Homo sapiens: one gene and its partners. The protein of the gene in region 2 interacts with the protein of the main gene of each other region in a pairwise test. Each region holds a gene or a part of one and is shown on either strand. Other genes may lie near its edges.

Region 1 (7,928 bases), on a different chromosome or scaffold from region 2:
AAAGTCAAAGGCCAATACACAGAAAAACATTTGTAGTTCATTACAGTTAAAGGGCTAATTTCTTTTTTAATTTTTTGAGACAGTGTCTTGTTCTGTTGCCCAGGCTGGAGTTCAGTGGCTTGACCTCGGCTCACTGCAACCTCTGCCTCCCAGGCACAAGCAATCCTCCCACTTCAGCCCCCGCCAAGGTGCGCACCACCATGCCCAGCTAATTTTTGTGTTTTTAGTAGAGACGGGGTTTTGCCATGTTGCCCAGGCTGGTCTCAACTCCTGAGCTGAAGTAGTCCACCCGCCTTGGCCTCCCAAAGTGAGGGAGTTACAGGGGTGAGCCACTGCACCCAGCCAGGGCTAATTTCCTCAATAGAAAAGAGCATCTACAAATAGATTGTTTTAAATAACCAACTATACATATGGGCAAAATACAAGAACAGTAGTTCACAGAAAAAGAAATACATCACGAGGTCAGGAGATCAAGACCATCCTGGCTAACATGGTGAAACCCCGTCTCTACTAAAAATACAAAAAATTAGCCAGGTGTGGCGGCATGTGCCTGCAGTACCAGCTACTCGGGAGGCTGAGGCAGGAGAATGGCGTGAACCCGGGAGGCGGAGCTTGCAGTGAGCCGAGATTGCACCACTGCACTCCAGCCTAAGGACAGAGCAAGACTCCGCCTCAAAAAAAAAAAATAAAAAAATAAAAAAAATTAGCCGGGCATGGTGCTGGGGCTTGTAATTCCAGCCACTCCAGAGGCTAAGGCAGGAGAATCACTTGAGACCGGAAGGAGGAGGTTGTAGTGAGCAGAGATAGCGCCACTGCACTCCAGCCTGGGAGACAGAGTGAGACTCCGTCTCAAAACAAAACAAAACAGAACAAAAGAAAACAACTAACTTGAAAATGAGGCAACTGTAACATGAAGTAGTAAACTGTAATTCAGACCTCAGGTGTGTGAAGAGCTCAGAGAAAGGTGACTGGGAGTGATGGGCACAGCTCCCAGATCCAGTGGTATTGAATTTAGATGGGGCTGCGAGTCCAAGGGTTAATGCACTGCTGAAATGGGGTGAGGAAATGCAGGATTGGGGTGGGTGCCACGGAGTAGGAACCCGGCAAGACTGTGTTACAACTATCTTTGTATGGGTTGATAAGGCTTGGACTAACTTTGCTCCTGTTTTCTTCGTGGGGACATGGGGAAACATGAACCTGGCAACCAAAAATGGCAAAAGCACGTGTAGGTGGATGTTTAATGCTAGAAGGCAAAGTTCCCTCTATAGTTACTTTTTTTTGTTGATTTGTTTGTTTGAGACGGAGTCTCACTCTGTTGCCCAGGCTAGAGTGCAGTGGCGCAATCTCGGCTTAATGCAACCTCAACCTCCCGGGTTCAAGTGATTCTCCTGCTTTAGCCTCCTGAGTAGCTGGGATTACAAGCGCGCGCCACCACGCCCTCCTAATTTTTTGTCTTTTTTTTTTTTTTTTTTTTTGAGACGGAGTTTCGCTCTGTCGCCCAGGCTGGAGTGCAGTGGCGCGATCTCGACTCACTGCAAGCTCCGCCTCCCGGGTTCACGCCATTCTCCTGCCTCAGCCTCCTGTGTAGCTGGGACTACAGGCACGCGCCACCATGCCCGGCTAATTTTTGTATTTTTAGTAGAGACGGGGTTTCACCGTGTTAGCCAGGATGGTCTCGATCTCCTGACCTCGTGATCCGCCCGTCTCGGCCTCCCAAAGTGCTGGGATTACAGGCGTGAGCCACCGCGCCCGGCCAATTTTTTGTCTTTTAAGTAAAGATGTGGTTTCACCATGTTGGCCAGGCTGGCCTTGAACTCCTGACTTCAGGTGATCCACCCGCCTCGGTCTTCCAAAGTGCTGAAATTACAGGCGTGAGCCACCGCGCCCAACCTTACAATTACTTTCTCATGAGATTTAAGTGCCTGGCCCTTAAGCACTACTTAAGAGCATTGCATGCACGCAGGCTCAGAGCGAAGTGTGTAGCTCAAGTTCACAGACGTGAGCAGTGGAGGCGGTAGTGGGGTGTGAGCCTTGACCAGCTCCTAACAGCTCCTCGCTCAACAGCACCGCCCGGAGCGTCCACTTCCCCCTACCCCGTAAAAAAAAAAAACAGGGCCATTGGTTCGGGTCGAGAGCCGCTTTGGGAAGCGTCTCTGTCACTAAGCGCTACCCCGGGGTGTGCGAGGGAGTCAAGGGACGCGGAGACCGGGAGCAGGGCTGGGTCCCCTTGCAGCCCCAGCGCTGGCCTCCTGCCCACCGCATTCAGGCGCTGCGCCGCCCTCACACCCACCCTCTCCCACCTCAGCAGCGTGCGGGGGAAGCCTCGCGCCGGGGTCTTTTTCAGCAAGACTGTCGCGGTCCTCGGCTTCAACTGCAAGGTAAACGGTGGCAGAGCCCCTTCCCACTCCAGCCGTGTGTGATTCTCACACTCAGTGCCCTCTCCTGCACTGGGGCGCCGGCAGTGGCGACCTAGGCTCTCCAGCCCCCGCCCAGTCCCCCGCGTGCGGGCGCCGGGACCGCAGTACCTGTGACGCCGAAGCCCAGCAGGCCGCAGACGGGAGCCACGCGCGGCCCTGGCACAGGGTAAAAACCTACGCTCAGGTAGGCGGGCAGCCACGATGTCGGGCAAGCCCAGGGCAGACCCCCGGTGGCGCACAGGGAAGCAGCGGTCCAGAAGGCCGGGTGGACGCAGGCGGAGCCCGACGGCTGGGAGGCCGCCGGCGCGCAGGGGTCGGGCCTCGCCAGGATGGCCTCGACCGAGAAAGGGGACTCGAAGCGTCCGGGAGCGCGGGGCGTGTTCGGGCCAGTAGGGGACCTGGGCGCCGGAGAGCGGCCAGAGCGCGGAGGTCGGACCCGAGAGCCCGAGGGAGCGGGTGGCGGGCTGCCTCGCGGCCTGGGGCTAGGCATGACGCGGCCGTTGCCCGGACGGACGCAAGGAAGGGAGCTCGGGAGAAGTGAGAAGATTCTGCAAAAGGCAGCGAGCAAGACCGGTTGTCTGGGAACCTCCTGGCGCTCGGCGAAGGCTCTTAAATTTGGCGGGGCGGGGCATGGGGCGGCCTCTCCCCACTGCGGTCCGGGCGGGGCCCCCAAAGCCTGTGAGCGCCCGCTCTGTGCGAGGCAAGGTGGGCACAGCACCAAAGAGTGTGTTCCCTCCCTTCCTCCGCTTTTAAAAATGCCCACCCTGGGGCGGTCGTGGGGAGGACTCTGAGCTCGCTGGTGATCCTGGGCGAAACACCCAGCCACCGGGCTCCGTCTTTCTCCTTTGCTCACTGAAGAAGGGATGCCCGTTTCCCCGGGGCCTTGCAGAGGCGGAGCTGTGATCTGGAGAGCGGTAGGGCAGTGCCTGCGGTCTTGGCCTCAGCTGACCCGCGCCGTCCTTGACGCAGAAGCCTCGGCCAGATTCACCTAGGACCGCGCGGACTTTTTGTTTGTTTGTTTTAAAATGTAAATATTTTATTTATAAGCACAGTGATAAGTACATTTTCCATCTGGCCTCAGCCCTTTAGTTTCCCTGCCTTGAGATGCGCTGTGATTACCAATTTCGTTCTTTCTTTAATATTTTTTTTGGCCAGGTGCAGTGGCTCATGCCTGGCATCCCAGTACTTGTGTGGGAGGCCGAGGCGGGAGGATCGCTTGAGCTCAGGATTTGATTTGATTTGATTTGAGTTGATTTAGGGGTAAAAGATATGGCCACTATGTCTCTAACCTTGGACTTTTAGTATATAATTCTGTGTTTCCATACATAATTATCAGTTTTCTGTTGTGTCATTTATTCCTTCTTCAGACTGTAAATTCCTGAGCATAAGCATTAATATCTCCAATTTACATATTAGTAAATACAGCAAGAGAGGTTAACAGAACTGCCTTGTTTCAAATCCCCTAGGTATGTGGTTTTAATTTGCATTTATTTCCCTGAAGACCGTTCATTGTGAGCATCTTTTTACATGCTTATCAGCCACTTGGATATCCTCTTTTGTGTGAAGTGCCTGTTCAACTGGTTTGCTTATTTTTGTATTGGGTCACTATGTTTTTCTTATTGTAAGAGTTTTATGTATAGATAATTTGGAATCAAGTCCTTCGTTGTAATATACATAGAAGCAGATAACCTCTGTCACTCTGTGGCCTGCCTTTTCATTCTTTTAGTAGTCCTTTTTTTTTTTTTTTCTGAGATGGAGTTGCCCAGGCTAGAGTGCAGTGGCACAATCTTGGCTCACTGCAACCTTTGCCTCCCAGGTTCCAGCGATTTTCCTGCTTCAGTAGCTGGGATTACAGGCATGTGCCACCACACCCAGCTAATTTTTGTTAAGTATACCAAAAATAAAGCCAAACGAATAACAGACTTTATTTTTATTCATTTATTTATTTATTTAGAGATGGAGTTTCACTCTTGTTGCCCAGGCTGGAGTGCAATGGCACTCGGCTCACTGCAACCTCTGCCTCCTGGGTTCAAGCGATTCTCCTGCCCCAGCCTCCTGAGTAGCTGGGATTACAGGCACCCGCCACCATGCCCAGCTAATTTTTTGTATTTTTAGTAGAGATGGGGTTTCACCATGTTGTCCAGGCTGGTCTTGAACTCCTGACCTCAGGTGATCCACCCGCCTTGGCCTCCCAAAGTGCTGGGATTACAGGCGTAAGCCACCGCACCCAGCCCTACAACAGACTTTAAAAAGACCACTGAGATGGGTTAGTACATGAACTAGGCACTTTATAAAAGGAAATATCTGAATAGCTTAAAACCATATGTGGCTGGGCGCGGTGGCCCATGCCTGTAATCCCAGCACTTTGGGAGGCCAAGGCGGGCAGATCACTTGAGGTCAGGAGTTTGAGACCAGCCTGGCTAACATGGTGAAACCCCATCTCTACTAAAAATACAAAAACTAGCTGGGTGTTGTGGTGGGTGCCTGTAATCTCAGCTACTCGGAGGCTGAGGCAGGAGAATTGCTTGAACCTGGGAGGCGGAGGTTGCAGTGAGCCAAGACTGCACCACTGCACTCCAGCCTGGGCGAAAGAGCGAGACTCTGTCTCAAAAAAAAAAAAAGTATGAAACATACTGAACTCTGTGAGTCATCAGGGAAATGCAAATTCAAATCACATCGTGATCCACTATACACGCACCAGAAGATGGAAAATACCAAGGGCTGGCTGGGCACGGTGGCTCACACCTGTAAATCCCAGCACTTTAGGAGGCCAAGGCAGGTGTGAGGCTGAGGCGGGTGGATCACTTGAGGTCAGGAGTTCGAGACCAGCCTGACCAACATCGTGAAACCCCATCTCTACTAAAAATACAAAATTAGCCAGGTGTGGTGGTGCACACCTATAATCCCAGCTACCTGGGAGGCTGAGTCAGGAGAATCGCTTGAGCCTGGGAGGCGGAGGTTGTAGTGAGCCATTGCACTCCAGCCTGGGCAACAAGAGCAAAACTCTGTCTCAAAAAAAAAAAAAAAAAGAAAAAGAAAAAGAAAAAGAAAAAGAAAATACCGAGGGTTGATGATAATATGAAGCATCTGGAACTCTTATCCACTGAGTGTGGGCATATAAATTGGTAGAAACACTTTCGAAAAATGGATAAGCAGTATTTACTTAAGCTTAACCCTCTGATCCAGCAGTTCCTATCCTAGGTATAGTGTATACCCAACACAAATATACATATGTGTTTAACAAGAGACATGTTTCAGAATGTTCACAGCAGCATTATTTGCAATAGCCCCAAATCAGAAACTACCAGAATGTCTACCAACAGTAGAATAAAGTTGCGCCACTGCACTCCAGCCTGGGTGACAGAGTGAGACTCTTGTCTCAAAAAAATAAAAAAATAAAAAAACAAGGCAAACTTATCTATGCTACTAGAAGTCAGGAGAATGCTTGGGGGTGGTTAATGAGTGGCAAAGGGCATGACGGGAACTTCTGTGGTGGTAGCAGTGTTCTATTTATTTTCTTTTTTTTTGAGATTGAATTTCACTATTGTTGCCCAGACTGGAGTGCAGTAGCATGATCTTGGCTCATTGCAACCTCTGCCTCCCAGTTCAAACGATTCTCCTGCCTCAGCCTCCCAAGTAGCTGGGATTACAGGCATGTGCCACCATGCCGAGCAAATTTTGTATTTTTAATAGAGACAGGGTTTCACCATGTTGGTCAGGCTGGCTGGTCTCAAACTCCTGACCTTGGGTGATCCACCCGCCTCAGCCTCCCAAAGTGCTGGGATTACAGATGTGAGCCACCGTGCCCGGCCAGTGTTCTATTTCTTCATCTGGATGCTGGTTACACAGATCTTTATACTTTGTGAAAATTCAGTGCCCACTTGTTCCTGGTCTGGACCATTATCAGTCCTTCCTTTATTTAGTTGTAGTTTTGCTATTGATTTTAATCACAGGATATGGAAATACCATGTTGTTCCCATTATCCCCCTGACAGTCAGGATCAGTCACCCAGAGAGTCTGATAATACTCTTCAGTGCCTATTGATTCACTGGTGAGAGAAGCCCAAGTAGCCAGCGACAGTCTTAACTGCCAGTTCAGTGAAACCACTGCTGTGTCTCATGTGGAAATAGTTCACTCTTGGGAACTCTAGTATCTCTAGATCAGCAGAGCACAAAGTTACCGAGATAGGAAGCAAAAATTTTGCTAGAGAAACACTATGTGTTATATTGAGGAGATCTGTTCTCATTTCTACCCTCTGACCCACAAATCCTGGTTTGGGATTTCTCCCAGCACCATATGTTGGTTGCCGGTTTAGAGCACATCTTGCATCTGAAGGACATTACCCATGCCCTGCAACATGTTACTATCCAGCTAGTGCCATAATTAAGTCTTCAAAAGGTCATCCTACTGTTCTTTCAAGCCAGCTGCTTCAGGGTAATGGTAAGACCAGTGAATACCATGAGCCTGAGCCCATTGCTGTTCTTTACTTGCTGTGAAATAATTCTTTTGTCAGAAGCAATGCTATATGGAATGCCAAAGCATTCTATAAGTTCAGAGATGTTGATTTTGGCAGAAGCATTGTGGGCAGAGAAAGCAAATCTATGTCACAGTAAATGGATATTCCAGTAAGAACAAAGTAATGCCCCTATGTGATTACCCTGGCACTAGGTGGCTAGTTGGTTTTCATATTGGGGGCTCAGTGTTGGTCTCTGCTGTTGGCAGGTTGGGCACTCAGCAATGGCTGTAGTCAGATTGGTTTTAGGGAATGGAAATCCATGTTACTAAGCCCCTGTCCAACCTCCATCCCTCTCGCCATGTTCACATTTTTCATGAGCCATTATGGTAACCACACCTACTTGTCACATCATCCCCATTGAATTTTGGGAGCCCAGCTTGATAGCATAAGTTCCCTCCGTCATTTCGGGCCTACAGAGAATAGCCACCATCGAGTTCTTCAAGGATATCAGGGCTTTCCTCTTGAATGCATTTCTCATAGGCTTGATGAAGGAAGTGTCTTCTAGAACTAACCTGGGCACATATTACAGGGGCAGGTAAATAGGTCTTCCATGGCAAGTCTACCCTAGCATTCTAGCCTTCCTTAGCCATTTGATACCTCTTCTACAGTGTGCCAACTTCATCTAGAAGTTGATATCAACCAACTGAACAAACTGTTAGACTCACTCAAGCTAGGACATTGAATCAGGAATCTCTGCTTAGTTGGCCCTTATAAATAGATTCAGCCTAATATGACTTTATATTTCTTCTGTCCTCATCTCACACCTTTGGGATCCATGTCCATACATTTCCCCAGGTTTCTGTATATGTAAATTGGCAACATCATGAAATTGTTTTGGTGTGTATCATACCACTGTCTCATGGGAAAGGCTTTGTACTTCATTCTCTGTAGCCTGTTTGAACTTGAGTCTACCAGCAATGAGAGGCAGTGGAGGTAAATCCAGAGGGCCACCACTTCAAGGAAGGCCATTACAAGACCTTCAGGCAAGGGGAGAT
Region 2 (7,023 bases):
TGCACTCCAGCCTGGGTGACAGAGCAGGACTCCATCTCGAAAAAAAAACAAAACAACAAAAAACAAACAAAAAAAGAAAAGCCCTGCAGAGGCCCCCACCTGCCCACCCCACCTCACCTGGCCGTCGTGCCTGCGCTTCTTCATGAATTGGGTGATGCACATGCTGCCCGCTGACTTCCTCTTCAGCGAGATGGGAGTGCCCTGGCTGGGCCCCGTGGAGGGGACGCTGCCACTGTCCTCTTTGGGGGCCGAGGGCACCGATGTCACATAGCTCCACTGGCACGGCACGGGCAGGTGCTCCTGCTGGAAGCTCTGTAGCACCTGCGGGTGCACGTACCAGCACATCCTGAAGTCAGGCCGCTTCTCATACACTGAGTTCTCGGAAATGAGCCGCTTGAGCCGGGACTTAGAGGGGATGGCGGCATCCTCGCTGGGGGTGGGGGTGTGCAGGTAGGTGGTGGAGGGGCTCCGCGGGCTGCCGGTGTGGTTGCTGAGCAGTCCCCGGCGGCAGTGCTCCTGGAACTCCCGGATGATGACCTTGCTCCCGTTCACATTGCCGTGCAGGAGCGGCAGCAGCTGGGCCAGGACTGGCAGGAGGGAACATGGGTGGGCATGAGGCTTGGGGAGCCACCCATCACCACAGGCCAAAAAACAAAACACATACACAAGCTCATTGCCACCGAGGCTTGGGGCATGGCCAGCTTCGGGGATAGGTGGCCTCATGAGGGCGGGTGTAAGACAGGGTAGCACCTACGCACCTGCCCAGAAGTGAGCCTTGGCCGGGCACGTGTGTTGCCAGGGCTGACTTCAAATGCCTGCTGTTCCTACCCAAATGACTGCCCTGCTCTCCTTGTGTGCCATGGTCCCTCCCCAGTTTTTTGAGTTTTTTTTTTTTTTTAGACAGGGTCTTGCTCTGTCACCCAGGCTGGAGTGCAGTGGCAGGATCATGGCTCACTGTGGTCTGAAACTCCTAGGCTCAAGCAATCCTCCCACCTCAGCCTCTTGAGTAGCTGGGATCACAGGTGCGTGATACCACACCCAGGTAATTTTGCATTTTCTGCAGAGATGGGGTTTTGCCATGTTGCCCAGGCTGGTGTCGAAGCACTAGGCTCAAGCGATCCTCCCACCTTGGCCTCCCAAAGTGCTGGCATCACAGGCATGAGGCACTGTGCCCGGCCCCTCCCTGGCTTTTGAGAAAGCACAGCCCCCACTCCAGCACTCTCTGTGCCTGTGTCCTGGTTGATAAAACAAGCCAATTAAGGGACCTGCCTCGTCCTGCTGCTAGGGACATCATTGAACGTACGGACATGTACAGGAAAAGGGCTGGCCTCTGTTATTTGTGGAAAGAACATTTGCATCACGGACCCACTAGCCTGTGACTCTTGCCCTCAGCCCTGGAATTAGCTGGGCCCAGGAACAGGTGGGTGGCCTGGCCCCGCCCACACTCACTCTGCTCGTCTCTCCTCTCCCGCTTGGAGGCCTTGGGCGTCTGCTCCTCCTGGGCCGGCAGGGTCTCCAGGAAGCAGGCTGCGAACTGCTGCAGTACCTTCAGGTCATCGCCTGCGCAGTCTCTGTCAGCCGCCCACACGCAGCCGATCTTCACAGGTTGCAGGACGCGAAAGCGCTTCCCCTTAGCCAGGAACTCGTCCCACTCCTTGGCCTTCAGTTTCTGGCGGACCTTATGGTTCTCAGGGTCGGCACACTCCTTGTGGTTTAGAAAGCAGAAGTTTATTTGGGGTTCTTGCTCCCCTATGCCCGGGCACTCTTTTGAGGAACCAGTCCCCAGCCAGCTGGGGAGCAAGAGGAAAGGACAGGGGCACAAAACTTCCCACAGTGTCAGGGCCAGGGCAGAGCACACCATGCGCTGGCTGCCCCTCTTCCAGATGGAATAATTCACACCTGGTCTCCTTTGGGAGCGTCACAGATATTTCTGAACTCACCCATGAGGCCTCTTTTAACACCCCTCTGAATTTTCTGGTGAATGTGTGATCGTGGAGCCGTTTAACAGGGTTGGGTGTCTACCCACATGGCCCAGGCATCTGGCAGACACATGCAGGGCCTGAGACCACTCTCTGACTGACAGTTCAGGCCTCGGTGGTCAGATATGCACAAGGAATGCCTAGGCCTCCAGTCCAACCATGAGACAGTCCCACCAAATCCCCACTTCCCAAACGACAGGCCTTCAAAACAAAACAGGACCAAAAACAACTTGCTTGAAAGCAAGTTCCTGCCGGGCTCGGTGGCTCATGCCTGTAATCCCAGCACTCTGGGAGGCCGAGGCGGGTGGATCACTGGAGGTCAGGAGTTCAAGACCAGCCTGGCCAACATAATGAACTCCCGTCTCTACTAAAAATACAAAAATTAGCCAGGTGTGGTGGCACACGCCTGTAGTCCCAGCTACTTGGGAGGCCGAGGCAGGAGAATTGCTTGAACCCGGGAGGCAGAGGTTGCAGTGAGCCAACACCGGGCCATTGCACTCCAGCCTGGGTAACAGAATGAGAATCCGTCTCAAGAAAAAAAAAAAAAAAGACAGTTCCACAACCTTATGGAATCTGGAAAGGGGTGGCAGGCAGGTTCGCCTGCAGAGACGTGGGCAATCTTCTGGAGAGATAGGGAAGTTCTGTTTTATTTCGGGCGGTGGTTGCCCACATTCACTTGATTGTTACGTCATCAAACTCAACACTTACAATGCACATGTCTTGCTGCATGCTGACTGTATGTCAGCTCGGGTGGTTTCCAGCCTTCTAACCCACAGACCATGGCCACGCTCCCTCACCAGGGTGTCTGCTCCTATGGCTCCCCTCGCTTGCAAGCTCCTCCTACGTCTGCCACCCTCCCAGGTAATACCAAGTTCAGGCCCAGCTGTTCCCACGAGTGAGCTTGCGTGCTTGGAATGCAGTCCAAATCTCGTATGGTTGGGCTGGGACCCCCGTCACCCTCCCAGGTCAGGCCACTGAGCACCAGTCCAGAAATGAACTTTTGCTGAGCCGGTGACCTCCCCCTTCACTCCCTCACCTCTGTCACACCTTCGTCCTCAGACAGGTACCCATGGGGCACAAAGAAACCATCGTCCTCATCTTCATCCTCTCCCATGTCGTCATCATCATCCTCAAAAGGAGAAAAAAAAAAGAGTTCATCAGATAGAAAAGCAGAGTGTGTGCCTTATTAAAAACAAAGTAGGCCAGGCGCAGTGGCTCACACCTCTAATCCCAGCACTTTGGGAGGCTGAGGTGGGCGGATCATCTGAAGTCAGGAGTTTGAGACCAGCCTGGCCAACATGGTAAAACTCTGTCTCTACTAAAAATACAAATCTTGGCTGGGCATGGTGGCACGCACCTATAATCCCAGCTACTAGGGAGGCTGGGGCAGGACTATCACTTGAGCCTGGGAGGCAGAGGTTGCAGTGAGCCGAAATCGCGCCACTGCACTCCAGCCTGAGTGATAGAGTGAGACTCCATCTTAAAGAAACAAAAAAATGTAAAGCTGTGAACATCTGCTTTGCATGGCCTCCCGACAGACACGGTGAGCATCGGCAGAAAGCCCACTAGGTCACAGCAGCTGGGCAGTCAGGAGGAAATGGTGTGCAGCAGGCCCGCAGGAGGCAAGAGGGGGCTGTGGGGCCACGGTGCAGATGCGGACGGGATCCCATCCCCAGCAGCCACGTGGGCGAGTGTCACCAGATGAGATTTTTCGAGAGAAGCTGGAAGTCTGGATGTTGAGGTGCGTTCAGGTTTCAGACCACACAGCAGGTCAAACACCAGCTGTCAGTGAGTGAACACAGCTGGGCTGCATCCTTAGCCCCTCACTGTGGGACAGAGACTCAAACACAAGCCGTCTGTGAGTGAAGACAGCTGGGGCACATCCTTACCCCCTCACTGTGGGACAGGGACTCCCCAGGCTCCTCTTCTTCCCACTCCTCATCACTGTCCACCTCATAGTCCAGGAGCTTCTGAGAAAAGAAACACATGGGACTCACAACTGTCTTTGGGGCTGGAGGAAAGGGGCACAGTGAGGAGGTACGGGGACGGAGGCACTCTGGGGCTAGCTCACCGTGTCCTGGGCCCAGGGGTCTCGCGCGCGGATGAGTGCCGTCTTCTTATTCCAGGTACCCCAGTAGGCAGGCCGGTGGTTCTCACAGAACTGCAGGAGCTTCATCCTGCCAAACTTCCTCCTCTCGGGAACACCGTCGCCCTTCCCACGCTCCACGATGACGACATCACTGAGAAGGAAAACCCCAGGCTCAGGATCACGCTGCCTTACAGACCTGCTCACAAACCTCCCAGGAACCTCCCTGTGAAGCTGGCCTAACAATTCTAGAAAGATGGGCATTTGTTAAAAAGCAGCACTGCCTGTCCCCAAAGAAAGGTCAGGAACATGGACTGAAGGGACAGATGGAGGAGGGTGCAGCCTGCAGGGTGAGAGGGAGGACAGCTGCCCAGGTGCAGCCCCAGAGCATTTTTAGCAAGGGAGGTTCTGTGGAATGAGATTTGCAAGAGCGAGGTGTTGGGGGGTATCCTTCACTGGAGACCAGCAGGGAAATAAGATTCCTCCACGAGGAGCTGGGAAGACAGGGAGAGGAAGACTTCAGGAGCTTACAGGAAGGCCAGGTGGAGAGAGGCCTGAGCCAGCACCGAAGCCCAGGGCCCGAGGGCACTAGGAAGCAAGCAACAGAAGGACCCAGAGCTCCCACCCCGGGGACCCCAGGGTTCAGGATGCTGGCCTCCAGCATCACTAGTGGGTGAAGGCCGACCTCCTCAGGCTCTGACCTGTTAAAAATATCTGCATTCCGGGTGGAAACGTGCGTGGGTCCGGACCTCAGGGGCTGCCGGCCTTTGAGGTCTTTCAAGAAGGAGAACTCGCCGCTCTGCTGCTGGAGGAGCTGGTCCAGCTGACTGCAGAGGTCTGGATGGAAAGCGGTCCGACGCCGAGGGGCCAGGACCATGTGCTCTTTAATTTCAAAGGGGGCAAACTTCCCACAGGAGCCGGCCAGGGTCTGAAATCAAGAAGAGACCCGATGGGGTCTTCGAGCAATGGGAGAAAGGAGGCACCATGGACGCACACAGCAGGGTGCTGGTGGGATTCATCCAGGCTAAGGCCAAGGCACAGACTCAAAAGCCCAGGCACTGTGTGGGTCCACAGAGCCGAGTTTCCAGAGCTACAGGGCAGAGGGCAGATTGGCAGTCTCAAGGGCCGGCGGTGGGGGGACAGACTACAAGGGAGCTGTTTTGAGTGATGGAAATAGGGTTTATCTTCATTATGGTTAGCTGGCCCTGTCATTTGTCAACACAAATGTCCTGAAAAGAGTTTATTTTATTGGATGTAAATTATATCTCAACAAACCTCACTTAAAAAAAAAAAAAAAAAAGGCCGGGGGCAGTGGCTCATGCCTGTAATCCCACCACTTTGGGAGGCTGAGGAGGGCGGATCACCTGAGGTCAGGAGTTCGAGACCAGCCTGCCCAACATGGTGAAACCCCATCTCTACTAAAAACAAAAATTAGGCCAGGGGCAGTGGCTCATGCCTGTAATCCCACCATTTTGGGAGGCGGAGGAAGGCGGATCACCTGAGGTCAGGAGTTCGAGACCAGCCTGCCCAACATGGTGAAACCCCATCTCTACTAAAAACAAAAATTAGGCCAGGGGCAGTGGCTCATGCCTGTAATCCCACCACTTTGGGAGGCTGAGGAGGGCGGATCACCTGAGGTCAGGAGTTCGAGACCAGCCTGGCCAAGATGGTGAAACCCCGTCTCTACTAAAAATACAAAAATTAGGCCAGGCGCGGTGGCTCACGCCTGTAATTGTAGCGCTTTGGGAGGCCGAGGCGGGTGGATTGTCTGAGCTCAGGAGTTCGAGACCAGCCTGGGCAACACAGTGAAACCCGGTCTCTACTAAAATACAAAAAATTAGCCGGGCACGGTGGCATGCACCTGTAGTCCCAGCTACTTGGGAGCCTGAGGCAGGAGAATTGCTTGAACCTGGGAGGCAGAGGTTGCAGTGAGCTGAGATCGTGCCACTGCACTCCAGCCTGGGGGATAGAGCAAGACTCCATCTCAAAAACAAAACAAAACAAAACAAAAATTAGCTTGGCATGGTGGTGGGCACCTGTAGTCCCAGCTACTCAGGAGGCTGAGGCGGGAGAATCGTTTGGATCTGGGAGGCAGAGGTTGCAGTGAGCCCAGATCACGCCACTGTACTCTAGCCTGGGCCTGAGGCAGGAGAATTGCTTGAACCTGGGAGGCAGAGGTTGCAGTGAGCCGAGATCGTGCCACTGCACCACTCCAACCTGGGGGATAGAGCAAGACTCCATCTCAAAAACAAAACAAAACAAAACAAAACAAAAATTAGCTTGGCATGGTGGTGGGCACCTGTAGTCCCAGCTACTCAGGAGGCTGAGGCAGGAGAATCGTTTGGATCTGGGAGGCAGAGGTTGCAGTGAGCCCAGATCACGCCACTGTACTCTAGCCTGGGCAACAGAGCAAGACTCCTTCTCAAAAAAAAAAAAAAAAAAAAAAAAAAAAAAAGACAGGGTCTTTTTTTGAAAGATCACAACTCCTCTTTTTTTTTTCTGAGATGGAGTCTCGCTTCATTGCGCAGCCTGGAGTACAGTGGTGCAATCTCGGCTCACTGCAACCTCTGCCTCCTGGGTTGGGCGATTCTCCTGCCTCAGCCTCATGAGCAGCTGGGATTACAGACGCCTACCACCACGCCCGGCTAATTTTTGTATTTTTAGTATTTTTAGTAGAGACACCTTGTTGGCCAGGCTGGTCTCAAGCTCCTGACCTCAGATGATTCACCCGCCTTGGCCTCCCCAAATGCTGAGATTACAGGCATAAGCCACCGCACCTGGCCAAAAGGAGAAATTTCAGTATAATGAAAGACACTGTAGCTGGGCGTGGTGGCTCACACCTGTAATCCCAGCACTTTGGGAGGCCGAGGTAGGCGGATCACCTGAGGTCAGTAGTTCAAGACAAGCCTGACCAACATGGAAAAACCCCGTCTCTACTAAAAATACAAAATTAGCTGG
Region 3 (7,068 bases), about 36 Mb from region 2:
TCATTGTCATACATAGAGGTGTCAATATCCTCAAACAGGCCCTCAAGCCCATCGTCCAGTAGACAGCCAGTGGCTGGGCCCAGCAGGTCCAAGGCACCCAGGCTGGGCGCTGCTCCCCCGATGCTACGGCCTGGTGGCCCCTCGTCTGCCAAGGGTTGGGGAGCCTGACTCAGGCCCTCAATGTGGCTGAGGTCCTCCAGGAGGCTGGCCATGGAGGCTGAAAGGGCAGCGTCCGAGCTTGCCAGTAAGTTGTCAGCCACACTGGGGGCTGCAGGTGGGCTAGGCACAGGTGGCAGGGCAGCCGCGGGTGCCATGGACGCCTGGATGCGCCGCAGAGTGTTCACGACCAGCACCAGGTGCCGCAGGTCCGGCTCACTCTGCTGCAGGCTGTGGTGGAGCTTGAGCACTGAGAGGTCAAAGAGGGAGCTAGAGGCCACGGCCGGGGGTGCCTGTGCCACCGCTGTGTGGCCAGGATCTAGCCACCAGGAGTCGACTGCCAGAGGTTCCTTCTCCTCCTCCTCCTCCCGTTTCCGCTTCAGACCCTTGCTCAGCATCTGCAGAGGGCAGGGAGTTATGGAGTTATAGTCAGTTATAGAAAACAAATGTTAAGTTCAAAGCCTGGATCTGACAGTTGCTGCAGGTAGGATCTTGGGGAAGTCACTTAACCTCTCTGTGCCTAGCTTTTCTTAGGGAACTTTAAAGATATAGACAATTTTTATTTAACTGTATATGTATATTTATAGATTTTTTTTGAGATGGAGTCTCGCTCTGTTGCCCAGGCTGGAGTGTAATGCCGTGATCTCAGCTCATTGCAACCTCTGCCTCACAGGTTCAAATGATTCTCGTGCCTCAGCCTCCCCAAAAGCTAGGATTACAGGCACATGCCACCACACCCGGCTAATTTTTATATTTTTAGAAGAAGCATGGTTTCACCATGTTGGCCAGGCTGGTCTCGACCTCCTGGACCTCAAGTGATCCGCCCACCTCTGCCTCACAAAGTGCTGGGATTACATGCGTGAGCCACCGCGCCTGGCCTATAGACTTCTTAAATTTTAAATTTTATATTTAAGTATATTTATAGACTTTTTTATCTGAAAAAATAAAGATGGGGTCTCACTATATTGCCCAGGCTGGTCTCAAACTCCTGGCCTGAAGCGATCCTCCCCCCTCAGTCAATAAGTACTTTTTTTTTTCCCTTTTATTTTTTTGTAGAGACATGGTCTCACTATGTTGCCCAGGGTGGTCTCAAACTCCTTGCCTCAAGCCATCCTCCTTCCTCAGCCTCCCAAAGTACTGAGATTACAAGTGTGAGCTGCCTCACCCTGCCAATAAGTACACTTAATGATAACATTATTATTTCTTCAGTGAACCATGTGGAATGGCCAATATTCAACTTTTTCCCCTACAAAAGCAGCTGTTTCACATATTTTATTATAATAACATAATTATATCTAAATAAGTTATAATATTATAAATACTAAACTAGTTTCACGTAGTTTAATATTTATTGTCTACTATGACTATGTTTCAAACAGTAAATAAATAAGGAAACACAGGAAATGTACAGAGAATTACAGGAAGACACTAAAAGTTCCTAGAGACCTTTTAGATCATCAGAGAAGGCTCCTGTAAGGAGGTGACATTTGAATGGAGCCCTCAGGCCAGAGAAGTCAGCCATGGGAGACCCTGGGAAAAGCATTCCGGGAGGAGGGAACAACAAAAAAAGGCAGAGAAAAGCCCAGAGGCTGGATGGGCTTGAACTGGAAAGAGACCAGCATGGGTGGCACACAGAGAGTGACATGGTAGGAGACCAGATTGGGGAGCAGCTAGGGGAACGGGCACAAGCCAGGTCACAGAAAGCCACATATGCAGAAGTAGGGAGTTTGGATTTTATCCTGAGTGTGGTGGGCAGTCATTAAAGGAATTTGAGCAGGGAGGGAATGGTGCTGTGAGCTGATTAGGTTTCCGGAAGATCCCCCCCATGGCTGCTTCGAGGAAGACTGTGGGGGGCAAAAAGAGGGGGGATCTGAGACCCACTGGTAGGCTGTACTCGTTTGGGACGGACGATGGTGATGGCCTGGAGTAGGAGCTGGTAGTGGCATGGAAGGAAGTCGGTCGAGTCAGGACTTATTTGGGAGGCAGAATAGACAGGGCTTGTCGGGAAATCGTGATCGGCACCGGGTTCAGTCACTGAGATAAGTTTGAGGGTCCACTGTTCTTGGAGTGGCGGGGGTAGGGCTGGAGTTTTGGACTCCTGGCGCTACCTACTTTTTTGGGCCAGGAAGACTGTAGAGTCCAGTTTCGGAACCCTGCCTAGCAAGATTTTAAGAATGGCCCACCACACTACTCAAAACAGGGTCTTCGTCCCCTTCCCCGCAGTCCGGGGAGTCCGGAACCGCAGGAATTCCGCCCCCACCCCCGACTCCGCCCCCGGGTCCCGGCGCCCCCTAGCGGTGCCCAGGCCGGCTTTCCCCCGGGGATTCTGGCCCCTCTGACCCCAGGACCCCTTCTACTGCCCCGATTCCCGGCTGTGATTCCTGCCGGCCTCCCGGCGCCGTGCGAGCCGGGACCCCTGGCGGGCTGTTCTCTGCGCCCGGCCTCCGCTCGCTTCCGGCAGTGGAGGCGGCTCCTCCCGAAGCGGCGGCGGCGGGGGCGGGTGAGTCACGCAGCCGGAGCCAAGAAGCCGGCGCCTCCGCCCCCTTCTCGGACTGCGGCGTGATTCACCCGGCCCGGCCGGGGCAGACAGCACGTAGAGGTCCGTGCGTCTCGATCCCGGGCAGCCCCGGCGGGCACCTGTCGGACCCAGGGATCGAACTCTGTGAAGGACCCGGCCGCTGGTAGCCCTTCTGTTCCCAGGCCCCTTCATTTACATACCTTGCTCACTAGCGGCCAATCAGAACGAAGAGGTAGCCACCCACAACCAATCAGGAAACGGCGGCGGCAGCATCGCTTGTTGGCTGTCCTCCGGAAACCCGCGCCTGGGTCGCGAGACGCAGTTCTGACTCCGGCTCACGACTCCAGACTCCTAACTACCCTTAGCGACCGCCCACTCTCGTGGCTGCCCCGCCCTCCGCCCCAGGGATTGGCCCTGCATGGTGATGGGCGGAGCTTGTAGGGGGCGGATTCTGAAGGAGGGGCTTCAGGGCGCATGCCCGGGCAGCTGCGCGAGTGAGGGGTGGAAAGAGGTGGCTTTTTACTCCGGGGAACGGTGGCGAGTGGGGGCTTTTGCCTCTCAAAATACGAGCCCCTCACAACTACCCATGCACCTGCCAAACCCGGCAATTAAGCTTCTTACACATCCAGCCCCGACAGGGGTCTACACTACAGATAATGCCCGGGTTCAAATTCCGACTCCGGATTCCCCACTCACTGGATGCGTGACCTTGGAAAAATGATCAACCTCTTCAAGCTACACAAAGTTAAATGGGGATCGTCTTGCCTACCTCTTGACAGGATACTTTAAGTAGGATCGTATCTATAAGAACACAATACCACACTCAAGCAATGCTGGACAGTTGGACTTAATTGTGGTTAAAGGCGGGAGTGAGGTGGGAGTGCGATACCAACGGAATCACATCCCGGGCTCCATTCCCTAAGCAGCTGTGTGACCTGCGGCAAGTGTTTTAATCCCTTCTGGTCTGTTTCTCCTTTAAAATGAGAGAAAATAGCGCCTAGTTTACAGGATTGTTTTTAAGGATTAAATTAATTCATGAAAAATCTTCAGAGTGGGGTGCAACATGTTTTGTGTTTTTTTTTTTTTTTTCATTTTATTTATTTATTTATTTATTTATTTGAGACAGATTCTCACTCCGTCGCCCAGGCTGGAGTGCAGGGGCACGATCTCGGTTCACTGTAACCTCCGCCTCCCAGGTTCAAGCAATTATCCTGCCTCAGCCTCCCGAGTAGCTGGGACTACAGGCGTGCGCCACCACGCCCGGTTAATTTTTGTATTTTTAGTAGAGATGGGGTTTCACCATGTTAGCCAGGCAGGTCTCAAACTCCTCACCTCAGGTGATCCGCCCTCCTCGGCCCCTGAGTGTTGGGATTACAGGCGTGAGCTACCGCGCCCAGCTGCTTATTATTTTTTTCTTTACTTTTTATTTTATTTTATTTTGCTTTTGAGACAGGGTCTCGCTCTGTCACCCAGGCTGAAGTGCAGGGGTGCCATCTCGGCTCACTGCAGCCTCCCAGGTTCAAGCCATCCTCCTGCCTCAGACCCCCAAGCAGCTGGGACTACAGGCGCACACCACCATGCCTGGTTAGCAACGTTGTTTCTTTGTTAGTAGTAATAGCTGTTGTAATAAGACAAGCTCTTAGTTCAAGGTGGATAGACATGCAGGATGGGGCTAGAGGTAGACAGGGTATAATACTCCTCCCATGGCCGGATGCAGTGGCTCACGCCTGAATACTCTCTCACCTAGATTTAATTGATAGTTGTTAGCTAGGCAACAACTGTAATCCAGTACTTTGGGAGGCCAAGGCAGGAGGGTCACTTGAGTCCAGGAGTTCACTTGAGTCCAGCCTGGGCAACACAGTGAGATCTCATCACTACAAAAAAATTTAAGAATTAGCCAGGCGTGGGCCGGGCGTGGTGGCTCACGCCTGTAATCTCAGCATTTTGGGAGGCCGAGGTGGGCAGATCACGAGGTCAGGAGTTCGAGACCAGCCTGGCCAACATGGTAAAACCCTGTCTCTACTAAAAATACAAAAAATCAGCCAGGTGTGGTGGCAGGCGCCTGTAATCCCAGCTACTCAGGAGGCTGAGGCAGGAGAATAGCTTGAACCCAGGAGGCAGAGGTTGCAGTGATCCAAGACAGCGCCACTGCACTCCAGACTGGGCAACAGAGCAAGACTCTGTCTCAAAAAAAAAAAAAAAAAAGGATTAGCCAGGCGTGGTAGCATGTTCTTGTGGTCCCAGCTGCTTGTGGGGCTAAGGTGGGAGGATTCCTTGAGCCCAGGAGGTCAAGGCTGCAGTGAGCCATGTTCATGCCGCTGCACTCTAGTCTGAGTAACAGAACAAGACCCTGTATCAAAAAAAAAAAAAAAGAAAAAAGTAGTAGTTGGTAACATTGTGCTAAGTTCCCTTTATCTACATATGTGTATATATTGTTTCTTTTGCTAAACCTTTGGAGAGTAATTGCAAGCATCTTGATATTCTACCCTTAACAGCTCAGGAGGCATCTCTTAAGAATAAGGACATTAGGCCCTGTGCGTTGGCTCACACCTGTAATCCCAGCACTTTGGGAGGCTAAGGCGAGTGGATCACCGGAGGTCAGGAGTTCGAGACCAGGCTAACCAATATGATGAAACCCCGTCTCTACTAATAATACAAAAATTAGCCGGGCATGGTGGCATGTGCCTGTAATCCCAGCTACTCAGGAGGCTGAGACAGGAGAATTGCTTGAACCCAGGAGGTGGAGGTTGCAGTGAGCTGAGATTGCGTCATTGCACTCCAGCCTGGGCAACAAGAGCAAACTCCACCTAAAAAAAAAAAAGAATAAGGACATTCATGTACAAGCCACAAAAATACTATTTCACATCTAATAGAATCAAGAATTCCACAATATCACCTAATCAAATCTCTCCAACTGACCCAAGAATATCCTTTATAGTTGCTTTCTTTTCTCCAAAATCAGGATCCAATGAAGGTTCACATGCTAATTTGGTTGTAATGAAGAAATTACATACTATATTTTATTCTCGAATATTCCCCCACCCAAATCCCTTTTTTTTTTTTTTTTTTTTTTGAGACAGAGTCTTGCTCTGTCGCCCAGGCTGGAGTGCAGTGGCATGATCTTGGCTCACTGCAACCTCCATTTCCGGGTTAAAGTGATTCTCCTGCCTCAGCCTCCCGAGTAGCTGGGATTATTGGCGTGCGCCACCACGCCTGGCTAATTTTCTTGTGTTTTTAGTAGAGACAGGGTTTCGCCATGTTGGCCAGGCTGGTCTCAAACTCCTGACCTCAGGTGATCCACCCGCTTTGGCCTCCCAAAGTGCTGGGATTACAGGCATGAGCCACCACACTCAGCCTCAAATCCTTTTTGATGTTTTGTTGACATTGAATTTCTGGCAAAACAGACTAGTCATGCTGCATAGTGTCCCACATTCTGGATTTGTCTGACTGTGTTTAATTTGTTCCTCTCTTTTTCCAATAAGCTGGAGGTTGGGTCTAGGGGCCTGGTGAGATTCTGCTTATGCAGTGAACAGGGAGACTCCACAGGGTGTGTCCTAATCCTTATTAATGTACTTCCTAATCCTAACGCATTATAGTAGTTGGCACCAGTGTCAGGATGTCCCACCATTGGTAATGCAGAGTTTCATCACGTGATTAAGATTGTGAGGGTTACATCGTAAAATAAATTTATCCTTTCTAGTTAGCAAATAACCTTTGGGATGATGCTTTAGAGCCTGTGAAGATCCTATCTCCAAGATGTATGTGGTGGCTCATGCCTGTAATGCTGGCACTTTGGGAGGCCAAGGCGGGAACTTAAGCCCAGGAGGTTTTGTGATTTTTTTTTTTTTTTTTTTGAGACGGAGTCTCACTTTGTCGCCCAGGCTGGAGTGCAGTGGCACGATCTCGGCTCACTGCAAGCTCCGCCTCCTGGGTTCATGCCATTCTCCTGCCTCAGCCTCCTGAATAGCTGGGACTACAGGTGCCCGCCACCTCGCCCGGCTAATTTTTTTTCCTTTTTTTTTTTTTTGTATTTTTAGTAGAGACGGGGTTTCACCATGTTAGCCAGGATGGTCTCAATCTCCTGACCTCGTGATCCGCCCGCCTTTGCCTCCCAAAGTGCTGGGATTACAGGCGTGAGCCACCGCACTTGGCCAGTTTTTTTTTTTTTTTTTTTTTTTTTTGAGATGGAGTCTTGCTCTGTCGCCCAGGCTGGTGTGTAATGGCGTGGTCTTGGCTCACTTCAACTTCCGCCTCCCGGGTTCAAGGATTCTCCTGCCTCAGCCTCCTGAGTAGCTAGGATACAGGTGCATGCCACTATGCCTGGCTAATTTTTGTATGTTTAGTAGAGACAGGGTTTCACCATGTTAGCCAGGCTGGCCTCAAACTCCTGACCT

What was found. The genes of interacting proteins can lie anywhere in the genome.
Region 1: the proteins of CHAF1A (region 2) and NOTO interact in binary tests that used the Homo sapiens proteins (3 or more experiments, as listed by UniProt).
Region 3: the proteins of CHAF1A (region 2) and SERTAD1 interact in binary tests that used the Homo sapiens proteins (3 or more experiments, as listed by UniProt).

What each region holds. Positions count from the first base shown.
Region 1 is NC_000002.12:73,197,646-73,205,573, reverse strand, and holds the start of NOTO (homeobox protein notochord), read right to left. Parts: upstream 3,001-7,928; 5' UTR 2,908-3,000; coding exon 2,526-2,907; intron 1-2,525. UniProt on the Homo sapiens protein: Transcription regulator acting downstream of both FOXA2 and Brachyury (T) during notochord development. Required for node morphogenesis.
Region 2 is NC_000019.10:4,426,634-4,433,656, reverse strand, and holds part of CHAF1A (chromatin assembly factor 1 subunit A), read right to left. Parts: intron 4,994-7,023; coding exon 4,767-4,993; intron 4,220-4,766; coding exon 4,051-4,219; intron 3,950-4,050; coding exon 3,869-3,949; intron 3,109-3,868; coding exon 3,016-3,108; intron 1,706-3,015; coding exon 1,450-1,705; intron 588-1,449; coding exon 118-587; intron 1-117. UniProt on the Homo sapiens protein: Acts as a component of the histone chaperone complex chromatin assembly factor 1 (CAF-1), which assembles histone octamers onto DNA during replication and repair.
Region 3 is NC_000019.10:40,422,993-40,430,060, forward strand, and holds the start of SERTAD1 (SERTA domain-containing protein 1), read right to left. Parts: upstream 3,001-7,068; 5' UTR 2,875-3,000; intron 555-2,874; coding exon 1-554. UniProt on the Homo sapiens protein: Acts at E2F-responsive promoters as coregulator to integrate signals provided by PHD- and/or bromodomain-containing transcription factors. Stimulates E2F1/TFDP1 transcriptional activity.